2 linked regions of the Homo sapiens genome follow. The protein of the gene in region 1 purifies or fractionates together with the protein of each later gene. This does not show direct contact. Each region holds a gene or a part of one and is shown in the gene's direction. Other genes may lie near its edges.

Evidence for each region.
Region 2: the proteins of EDIL3 (region 1) and ZNF496 purify together in Homo sapiens (co-immunoprecipitation; 3 studies listed by BioGRID and IntAct, with this or other methods). This does not show direct contact.

The regions. Positions count from the first base shown.
Region 1 is NC_000005.10:84,374,809-84,382,109, reverse strand, and holds part of EDIL3 (EGF-like repeat and discoidin I-like domain-containing protein 3 isoform 1 precursor), read left to right. Parts: intron 1-7,301. UniProt on the Homo sapiens protein: Promotes adhesion of endothelial cells through interaction with the alpha-v/beta-3 integrin receptor. Inhibits formation of vascular-like structures. May be involved in regulation of vascular morphogenesis of remodeling in embryonic development.
Region 2 is NC_000001.11:247,296,676-247,300,929, reverse strand, and holds the end of ZNF496 (zinc finger protein 496), read left to right. Parts: coding exon 1-411; 3' UTR 412-3,515; downstream 3,516-4,254. UniProt on the Homo sapiens protein: DNA-binding transcription factor that can both act as an activator and a repressor.

The DNA.
Region 1 (7,301 bases):
TGCACCTCTCTAATTTTTTCTCCCTCACCTCTGCAGAAGGCAGAGTACAGCTTCCGTGACAGCTCCAAACAATTAAACTTCCGGCAAACTTATTGAAGCCAGTGCTAACACAGAATTTTCCTTGCACTCCTTCCCGCCCCCAATCATTAATCTCATGTCTCTTAGAAATTGGTGTTTTCCCTACGTATGGGTTGCAATTTACTTGCATTAATGCCTGGGATTTGATAAGGATATGTAACTCCTTTTATTAGTCGTCTTTATTTTAAAATTAAACCAATGGATCAGTCAGATTGAATATTTTATTAACTATTAAATTATTCACGGTATGGGTTGCTCTAAAAAATTCAATAACATGCATACAGTTGCAGCAAGCACGTGACATCTTATGCAATCTGTCCCTGTGCCTGCAGTTTGTGCCTGAAGTCTTTAAGCAAATGGCACTGTCTAAAAATGTCTAGACATGTCCTAAATACTATGAATCATTGGCATTTGCATTTTCTTTTTTTAATCAATGGCGATTTTTAGTTAATTTTACATGAGAATAAATTAATACCTGAACAGTCTCACTCCAGATAACAACACTAACCTTTTATGATTAGTATAGTTACATTTATACAGAAATAAGGAGTTTCTTTTATCTTATTATATTATTATTACACATTGATGTCTTCGTTGCCTAATTTACCTGACCATTAAATTTTATACCTTAAAAATAAATGCTAACTTCAGAGTCAAGGTAAAACATACAAAAATAATTCTGAAATATCAAATTAAAATAAGAATTAAGTGAAAATGAAGTATTCTCATGTGAAAGTTTGACAGTATTGCAATATTTTGGCCACTGTGGTGATACAACACACAATTTTTTCCTCTGGTTCTGAAAATGTTTTTCTGATTTTTCCTGAAATGTTTCCTTAGAATTAAAATGTATTTGTTTTAAATGTATATGGTTTTGGGAAAAGACTTAAAATAATTTTTAAAAATCAGGAAAAAATTGAGATGGTCTATTTTTCCTTCTTTGATCTTGAAGTTGCAAAAATCTTCAAAAGTAGGCAAATGTATTTCTGAATACTTTTCTAAATTAAAACTATGTCATAATTTTCTCAAATATATTGACATCAATGTTCATATAAATCATGTATTCAAAATCTAGGGTATTTTAAATAAATATTTAATAAAGTTTGCTTTTCTCTCTAGATACATGTGATTTTTTTCTTCTAATAAAATTATAGCAATGTAAAGGGAAGGAATAAGATATACATGACTAAAATAAAGTAGCATGGTCACTCGATACCATTAAAAGTAAAAGCTTGACAGTTTTTAGAGTTAAATTAGTAGTACCAGCTGTTAATTTTATTAATTTCAAGATAAAGTTTTAATTAGCTAAAACTTTTCATTTTTGAAGGATTTTGCATAATGGGATGAACTGTATATATTATCATTTAGTGTATAATTTTTTAAAAGTTGCCTCCTTTGAGAGTTTCTTGAAGCCTAAAAAAGTAATTCTGATATTTGTTGTTTACTGCACACACTTGCAGGTGCAATAGCTTTGAGTAAGATTAGGATGTAATAGGTTCATTGTATCTCTTCCAAAGAAACAGTGCAGGCTTCAGAACTCAGTTCAAGTCAGAAGTAAATCATAACATTTGGATACTGAGTAAAAAATAGCAAATTTTGCAAATATGTGTTGAGTGTTAATGGCTTCTGTCATAGTTAATCATTTACTTTTTATTTGCTAAGTAGGTTGAAAATTAACATTATTATTTTAAAAAGCAGAAAACCAAAGCTAAGCCATTCCTATTATTCAGTTCTTCTCTGTGTTTTAAGGAAGACGCTTAGCATCTTCCTTAGATGTTCTATAGTTATAGACTATATAAATATTCTTCTAAAATGATTTTTTTATTTTTATCATAGTCCATGTAATGATTATAATGTTGTTTGCTTAATCAAAGCAAACATGTATTTATAGACAGAGTCAAATGACTGCCAATGTGAAGTAATTATTAAAATATTTCTCATGGTTTCCTATGTGATACAGCAAGAATTTAAGTACTATAAATACTTAAACTGAATGTATTACCACTTGTCACTGAAAATACCCCTAAAAATCTTTGATTTGAGCAAGTTGTTGAAGGGAAAAGTAGACTAGAATCAACTGTGCCCTCACCAGCAGATGTCAGGATAATCAACGAAGATCTTTTAAAGGAAAAAATAAAATAAAAGGAAAAATAAAAGAAGTCAAGTCATAAATGTGAATCTGCAGATCCACATAAAGTAACTTTCTACTCTTTACGAAACTAATGTTATTAGTTAGTTTTCATTGCTTCCCTGAGGAAGAAAAAAAGAGGGCATTGTAAGGTAGAATCCTTCTACCATAGGATTTTAACTTGGAAACACAGACATTCAAGTGCACACTTAGGTTGAACTATTACTTTAGAGGGAGTCTTCTAAGTACCTTCCAAGGAAAAACACAGAGAGCTATGAGGTGTTTGTAGTAAAACAATTATTAATGAAATTTATACCACGATTTCTAAGCTTATTCTTCATATGAACTATAAGTTTCATAAATAGCAGTTCTGTTATATTGATTTACACAGACATACACACTCAACTATTCCTATGCATCTACTGCACTGGAAAGAGATGAATGCTTTTATTTACTCTTTTTGTCATTATGGTAAAGTGTATGTTTTTTAGATCTTGCAAGATTCTACATAAAACAAGTCATGTGGCCAAAAGAGACAAATGTCATGATAAATAAAGCTTTGTTATATCCCATTTAAGCCAGTTATTAATTTCTATATATGTGACTCCTCTGCATCAATTGATGTCAGGGACTTGAACTAATTTATTTTGATTGCAATTGACCTTTAACTGATAACTTGTAGTTCCAGCATCTGCTGATGTAGCCCTCAAAACTATGTTACAGATTCACCATTATACCCTTTTAAGGAGCTTTTTTATACAGTCACTGACATTGTGCCAAATAGTCGGTTTCCAGTGGCATTCTTTCTGTGTCAGAGTTCTCCTAGGATAAAAATTTCTCTCTCCTTCATTCCGTCTCTTTCTCCTCCTCTCCCCTCCTCCCTCATTTCCTTGTTATATGGCAAATAGGACACAACATCTACTGTAAAATTGATAGTGATATTTTGTCATCATTATTAAAAGATTGCAAACCTTTGAAACGTTGTGAAACTTGTAACTTATCTTTTTGTGAGGAAAGAAAAGGAAGATGATAATGTCAAACCTCTGCCTACCAAACCTGAAGTTTAAAACATAAGTGGAAATAAATTGGGATCTAAATCATGGAGCAACTCAGGATTTTACACCTTGATTTGATCACACTGTCCTGCCTAAAGCTATCAAGTATACAGTAATTTATATCCACTTCACTTGTGGAGAAGCCACTTGCCTTGAAGCTTCATCCACATACCACATAGCTGAGAACCTAGGATAAAGAATCAGAAACTTCTGACCACAAAAATAGATGTCATAGTTAGGTCTTAGATCATGTATCATAGAAAAGCTTATTTCTCTTGGCTTTCAAGTTTCTGGGTCCTCTATAAACTGAATCCAGAAAGTGAAAAGCATATGAAGTAATAGGTCAGGCTTAATCAGAGCAGTAAAACATGCCAACTTTTAGACAAAGAGGAGACTCGAATAGTATATGTAAAAGCAGTGATACTTTGCAGTACAAAAAACTGGGTACATGCAGTTGGGAGGGTTTGGGGTGGGGAGTGGTAAGTGTATCACCATATAAGAGAATGCAATAACTGGTGATAATGCTGGTTTTGCGACCTAGAGAAAGCCTCACTGCAAGATGTTCAACATTTTTTGGGTGCAAATGCAGTGAAATGTATACATTATTTAAAAAAAGACTTGGTCAAAAATGTTTAAGCTTGAAAACCTGCTTAATGGTGAAATAGCTAGATATCTGAACAATGTACTTATTTAAGACTTTTCCCGTTGTGTCAAATAAAATGTTGGTATTTTAAAATTATTTTTCTTCTAAGGTAATAAAGTTTTAGAAGACACAAAACTGAATTTTGTAAAAAAGAAGTAGACCTTACAATGTAGATAAAATGTCCTGCAATTATTTGGTTATATTTTAGAAAATGTGCTGCTATTTTGTTTTAAAATATGCATTATTATAGTGATAGTAACTGTGTAGGAATTGTTCAGATTTATAGTGTGTGACTTAGAATGGAGGATTTAAGTACAAGAATTTAGGTGACGGCTTTTTAAGCACTAAAGCACTTTTGAATGTGGTTGTTACTATGGAGAAAGAAGATTGACTTAGCTTTGCCTTTTATCTTTTCCAAAACAGGTTTGTATCAAAATGATTGATCTCTTAAAATAATTTAATATGATATAATATTTCATAAATGGGAAGACCAAGGTTTTAATCTCTTGTTAGATGATATATGCTTGATTTGAAGATGATAATCTCTAAATGGGGTTAGGCCACCATGCATTCCTTAAGGTTTGTGCTTGGTATTTAACAAAGTGGTATATTTTGGGAATGCAAAATAATCCTTTAAATCCCCTCTTGTATTTTAGGTCAGGGGAACCATTTAGATTTTACTGATTCTGGGGATTATTTGAGGTCAGCCAGGATGAAATGGGCTCATGACACAATCAGGAAAGTCCAAAACAATTGAGTGGAAACATTGGAGAATATTTTTTATTTGAAATAAATGGACAGATCCCTCTCTGTAATGTAGAGCAGTCTCCCACCTACAGGCCTGAGCCTTAGGTCTGTGCTCACATCTCTGCTTCACTCTTTTTTTTTTTTTTTTTTTGAGACGGAGTCTCGCTACCCAGGCTGCAGTGCAGTGGCGCGATCTCAACTCACTGCAAGCTCCGCCTCCCGGGTTCACACCATTCTCCTGCCTCAGCCTCCTGAATAGCTGGGACTACAGGCTCGGCTAATTTTTCTGTATTTTTAGTAGAGACGGGGTTTCACCGTGTTAGCCAGGGTGGTCTCAATCTCCTGACCTCGTGATCCACCCGCCTTGGCCTCCCAAAGTGCTGGGATTACAGGCGTGAGCCACCGCGCCCGGCCTCTGCTGCACTCTTTATCACATTTTCTTTCCAAATACTATATGAACTTTAATTTTAACTATGCTATTTTTTCTGTTTATTTATCTTTCTATAGTTTAACTTCTGTATTATAAACGCTAACTTTTCTGGAATGTTGTTTACAGACAAACAAAAACCAAATTACCATTCGCAGTGCTTTAATGTTTATATACCAAGTTCTTGTTTCATGTTTTGTGCTTTCTACTGAGCTAGGGCTTAGAATAGTACCAGGCAAAACAAACAAGAAGACCCAAACAGACACTTAATATATACTGAATTGAATGTAGCTACCCACCCCCATCAGTTTGCCTGTAAACGTACTTGCACATTTTAAACAGCAGTGTGTCTCTTATATATAAAAATAGGTCAAAGTAGTTTCAGGAACTTTAAAAGCTGTGTTTTTCACTTTCTTACATAACTATTCCTTATAATGTGTGTTGTAGAATGAGCCTACTTTGAAAATATTTCTCAACACTCCTGCAAGAGCACTGTTGATAATATAATATTCAAGTGCAGGCAGGATATAAAGTACTTAACTGTGTTTGTTATGAACCTTCAATTAAAAGAAAAGCTGCTTCTAAGTGATTTTTCCCTTTTTTAGGTGCAAGGTTCTGACATTTCTGACTAAATTTGATTTTGGCCTAGAAACAGTAATTTTTCAGGCATCATTTTGTGTTTTTATTTTTTTTGCTTTCTTTTCATTACTTAGGGACCACCATCATGTCAGCATTAAGAGTCTTAGATAAGTTAACAAGGTACATTCTTTCTAATATCTTTCAAGTCTAACATGTATTGACTGCATACTATGTGTTCCACTGTTCTAATTATCATCTTTAATTCTCAAAACTATTGAGGCAGGTGCTATTATTATTGAAATATAAATGAGAAAATGGAGATATAGAGATCATAGAGCTACTAAGTAGCATGTTAAAATTAGGATCTAGAGCTTGTCCTCTTAACTATTAGGCGATGCTCTGTCTCAGTGAGTGACACATCTTGTATATCATGGAGATATTTTGTTAAATGATTTTATTATTTGTAAAACACACATTATGTCTAACCATTATTTCACTAGTAATTATTTTAGAAGGATTAAATTATACTTATTCTCTTGGGACAATAATTTAAAAATTTCAAATTTAGGTTGGTAAAGTGTAAAGTTCTTTTTTCACATTCAGAAATAAAAGAGTATGCTCATTCATTTGGTCAGAAAGTGTTAATGTGTTAGAATGCATCACTGGTAAGAAGATGAGCACTTGGGAAGTGGTTTGAAATACATTTTCTTTAAATCTTGCCATTTAGTTTGATTTCAGCACAATTTTTTGATTTATTTTAATTTTCTAGGATTTCATTGCTCCTCTACATTGTTTCATTGCTATTCAATGTGATGTGTAGAAGCATGCTTTCTCTGTAATTTTCAGATACATCAGGTAGTACAAAGTGACTTTAGAGGTTAACAAGGTTTTTATTTCTCCTAGTGTAATGAAGATATTTAATTTGCCTTACATCTCATCCTCATTTAATTTTATTTCCACATAACCCCATTAAGAAGTTTTAGCCAAACAAAAGCACCAAATAATCTCAAACCACATCAATTAGAATATTTTTTTTTCTGGTTTATGTGAAGAATTATTCAACCAAAATATGGTTTATTTTTTTAAAAAAACTTCAAACTGCAATCATTTTAAGTATTTTACAAAACAATGAGAATTATGCTGTATTATTCCATTTTCACACTGCTATAAAGAAATACTCGAAGGCTGGGCGCAGTGGCACATGCCTGTAATCCCAGCACTTTGGGAGACTGAAGTGGGCGGGTCACGAGGTCAAGAGATCGAGACCATCCTGGCCAACATGATGAAACCCTTTCTCTACTAAAAATACAAAAAATAGCTGGGCGTGGTGGTGTGTGCCTGTAGTCCCAGCTACTCAGGAGGCTGAGGCAGCAGAATTGCTTGAACCTGGGAGGCAGAAGTTGCAGTGAGCCGAGATCATGCCATTGCACTTCAGCTTGGTGACAGAGAGAGACTCCGTCTGAAAAAAAGAAAAAAAAAAAAAAGAAATACCCGAGACTGGGTAATTTATAAAGGAAGGAGGTTTAATTTAATTGACTCACAGTTCCACATGGCTGGAGAGGCCTCAGGAATTTACAATCATGGTGGAAGCCGAAGGGGAAGCAAGGACCTTCTTCACGTGGCAGCAAGAGAGGGAATAGGGAA
Region 2 (4,254 bases), on another chromosome or scaffold:
GGGCACCTAGAGAGCCACGAGGCCCAGAAGCCTTACCGGTGTGGTGCCTGCGGGAAGAGCTTCCGCCTGAACTCCCACCTGCTCTCCCACCGGCGGATACACCTGCAGCCGGACAGACTCCAGCCGGTGGAGAAGAGAGAGCAGGCGGCATCCGAGGACGCGGACAAGGGTCCCAAAGAGCCGCTGGAAAACGGCAAGGCCAAACTGAGCTTCCAGTGCTGTGAGTGTGGGAAGGCCTTCCAGCGGCACGACCACCTGGCTCGGCACCGCAGCCACTTTCACCTGAAGGACAAAGCCCGGCCCTTCCAGTGCCGGTACTGCGTCAAGAGCTTCACGCAGAACTATGACCTCCTCCGCCACGAGCGCCTGCACATGAAGCGCCGTTCCAAGCAGGCTCTGAACTCCTACTGAGCCTCTCCGCCTGGGGCGGCCTCACCCTGGCTGGTGCTGCCCCCTCACCTTGGTACTGATCAGCGCCCCCACCCAGGACATACCTTCCCCAGGATAGAGAGCACACCTCCCTCCTGTCCTTGCTCTCAGGTAGTGAGCGTTCGGGTGGTGCCATGGGAGCACTCTCCCTCCCCCAGGTAATGAAAGAGTGGCCAAGTGAGTGTTCTGTTTCTGCTGTGCCAAAAAACGGGGGGGATGTGCCATCACCAGGTTGGACATGCCAGGTGTTCTGCGTCTTAGAGACCCTTGGCCCATGCTCCCCAAGCTCGGGGAGTAAAACTGGGCTATCCCCCGTCAGGGCGGCACCCTGGTCACCAGCCAAACCTCAGTATACTCCCTCCCCTCCTTCCCTGTCTGAACGCTAGGATCTGCTCCTGAAGCTCCAGGATGCCTGCACTTCCACTGAGAAGCTGCTGGCGGATGTTGGACTAGAGGAAAGAAGAAGGCAGGGTGGGACTGATGGGCTCAGTGGGGAGCAGGGCCAGGCACACTGAGCCAGACATGTCATGTCTGAGCCCCAGATTCGTGGCCATCAGGTAGGCAGGAGCACCCCGCAGATCCAAGATGATCAGGCAGCCCTTTTGGGCTGGCCTCTGTGGCAGGGGTCTGCAGAGCTCCTTCTTGAGGTTTGGAAACAGTCGTCATACCTGTTGATTTTCCTGGGGGCCAATCACTAGGGATCTGGAGCTCACCAAAAACAAAGCTTACATTTTAATTTGTGTTGCACACCTACCCCATAATGTCTTTATACCCCAAAGATCCTTGGTAAATGCTTGTGGGTTGGAAGCGGAGTTGTCATCGTTTAAAAGGCACTTAAGTCCCTTCTTCCAATCTGTCCTGTCTAGGAATGTGGAGCTCTGCCCCCAGTGAGGGGTTCTCCTGTCTGGGTGAGCCAAGCTCCAGAACAGAACCTTGCCTGACAACACACTTGATAGATACATTAGCTTGGAGTGCTGGTGTGTCCAAACACTGGCTGGCTTAGAACAACAGGAGTGTATTCCCTGACAGTTCTGGGAGGTGCACGTCCAAGATCAGGGTGTCCTCAGAGTTGGTGCCTTCCGAGAGCTGTGAGGGAGAAGCGGCTTCATGCCTTTGCTGGCAGTTGCCATTCCTTGGTGTGTGGAAGCGTCACCCAGTCTCTGCCTTCATCTCCACATGGCACTCTTGCTGTGTGCGTGTCTGTCTCCAAACCTCCCTTTGTTTAAGGACACCAGTCATATCGGATTAGAGCCCATCCCACCGACTCCAGTATAACCTCATCTGTATCCGCAGCAACCGTTTACCAATAAGGTCACATTCTGAGGTACTAGAGGTTGGGACTTCAACATCGGAATTTGAAAGGGACAGCATTCAGCCCATGACTCCAGATAAACGTGAGGTATGCTATATCATTCCTAATTTACAGATGAGTCAATACAAACTTGAGTGAGCTTGCTCACAATTCCATCAAAGGCAGGGTTCAGACCCAAGTTTCAGCATTTAGGGCAGGTGTCCTCTGCATGGAAGAATCATACTCAATAGCCGTAAACGCTGACAAATTCCCCTTCCTCCCTGCCTTCTGATGGGGGCTGGGCAGGCCAGCTGGAGCTGTGTCTCCTGCTGGGATTCCGGACTGAGAGTGACAGCAGGTAGTGAAACCTCAAGCAATTTAAAACATGGTATTGTTCCTGGAAGACTGGTTATGTTGGCTAGGGTCAGCAAGAGAGGGCATCAAGGCTGTAGTCTAGCAGTGATTTAATCTGCAAGTCAAACCAGACGGGTATTTTGTATTATTCATATGTCACATCCTACCAACAGACAGTAAGTCAGGCAAGGCTCCTGGTGCTCCTTGTCACTCACGTAATTTTCACATCAGGAAAACTCTGGGCTGGGTGCAGTGGCTCACACCTGTAATCCTAGCACTTTGGGAAACCAAGGTGGGTGGATTGCCTAGCTCAGTGACACCAGCCTGGGCCACATGGCAAAACCCCGTCTGTACCAAAAATGCAAAAAATTAGCTGGGTGTGGTGTTGACGTTTGCGGTCCCAGCTACTCTGGAGGCTGAGGTGGGAGGATTGCTTGAGTCTGGGAGGCAGAAGTTGCAGTAAGCCGAGATCATGCCACTGCACAAGCTAGGTGACAGAATGAGACTCTGTCTCAAAAATAATTAAAAAGCCTCTGCCCCAAACTCGTTAAAAGATTTTATAACCACAACTGCTGTTTCTGTGTAGATGCATCTGCATGCCCAGGAGCAGTAAATGCAATAAAATCATTTGGTTATACTTTGAACACAAAATAAACGGTTGAGGCTTTTACTTTCTAAATAGTTTGTCTCTTGTATCAACATAGCTGGAAAAGGGAGAAATCCGATTTTTAAGGCCAAGGGAGGGGAAAATTCCAAGTAGAAGCCAGGCTCTCTGTACACGTTTACCCCACCTACCTGTGTGCTCCTACCTGTGCTGAGGATTCTCTCTGTAGCTCTAAGGTCTTGGGAAGGTTATTCACCTTCCTGCTTCAGACGTCTGACTCAAGAGAAGAACACTGTTCTACTTACCAGAGTGTTTTTCTGTGTAAAACCACATCATGAAGGAGAAAGCGACAAAGGGAATGTGAGGGGCTGGAAGCCACAGGGAGGCTGTCTCTTGAGTCCCCACCACTGATCCAGAGCCAACCAAGGCACCTCAGGAAATGGAAGGCCACATTGCCTCTGGATTTGGAAATCCTCCTGGGTAATGTAACTGAAACCCAGGTTGATGCCATGCAGCAGGAGCAGCAGGGGGAACGTGCTCTCAGGAGAGGTCGGCCAACCCTCCAGCCCAACACCCTTCACCACAGTGGTGGAGGAGGCTGCACCCAGGAGATCTTTGTCTCCCTTTTGGCCACTGATACCTTTGGCCTTATCTGACAACAGCTACCCCTCGATCCTTCCCTCCCACCCCAGGGGCTGGGCAGCTGGCTGGAGCTTTGTGTCCACCTTGCTCTGGAGGTTGAGACCCCCATCTGAGCAACATCCTCTCTCTTTGTTCCTCTGATCCCTTGGCATCGTCACAAACCCACAGGTGCATAATAAAAACTTGCTGAGTCAATATTCCTGTTAGGCTTTTCATTTTCATTTAAAAAGTAAAATGTGGCTGGGCGTGGCAGCTCATTCCTGTAATCCCAGCACTTTGGGAGGCCGAGGCAGAAGGATTGCTTGAGGTCAGGAGTTTGAGACCAGCCTGAGCAATATAGTGAGACCCCATCTCTAAGAAAAAAATAGAACAATTAGCCTGCCATGGTGGCACATGCCTGTAGCTATTTTGGGGGCTGAGGTGGGGGAAGATCCCTTGAACCCAGGAGACAGAGGTTGCTGTGAACGGTGGAGGTTGCTATGAACGGTGGAGCGCCACTGCACTCCAGCCTGGGTGACAGAGCAAGACTTCATCTCAAAAAACAAAAAGTAAAATGTGAAGCACAGCCAAAACATGTTTTCTAAGACCTGCAGGCTTTAGATAGTTCTGGTCACCTGATCTGGCCCCTCCCCAAAAGAAAGAAGAAGAAATAACTGTTTCATACGCTGGGAGTAGATTGTACTCCTGGTCACACCACAGCTTTAAGCCAACCTTAGTCGTTTTTCTCTTTTCTCTATCTCCCCAACTCTTGCCTCAGCTAGAAGAAGAAACAAATAAAAAAAGATGAGGCCATTGGTGGGAGGGTCCCTATCAGTCCTAAATCATACTGTGGCACAAAGGAAAGAGAAGGCCAGCTTTGAAGCCTGTGGAGATCTTGTCCAAGTCACTCTTCTCCTGTGAGATGGTTTCCCTTCCTCTGCCAAAAGCAGAGTTT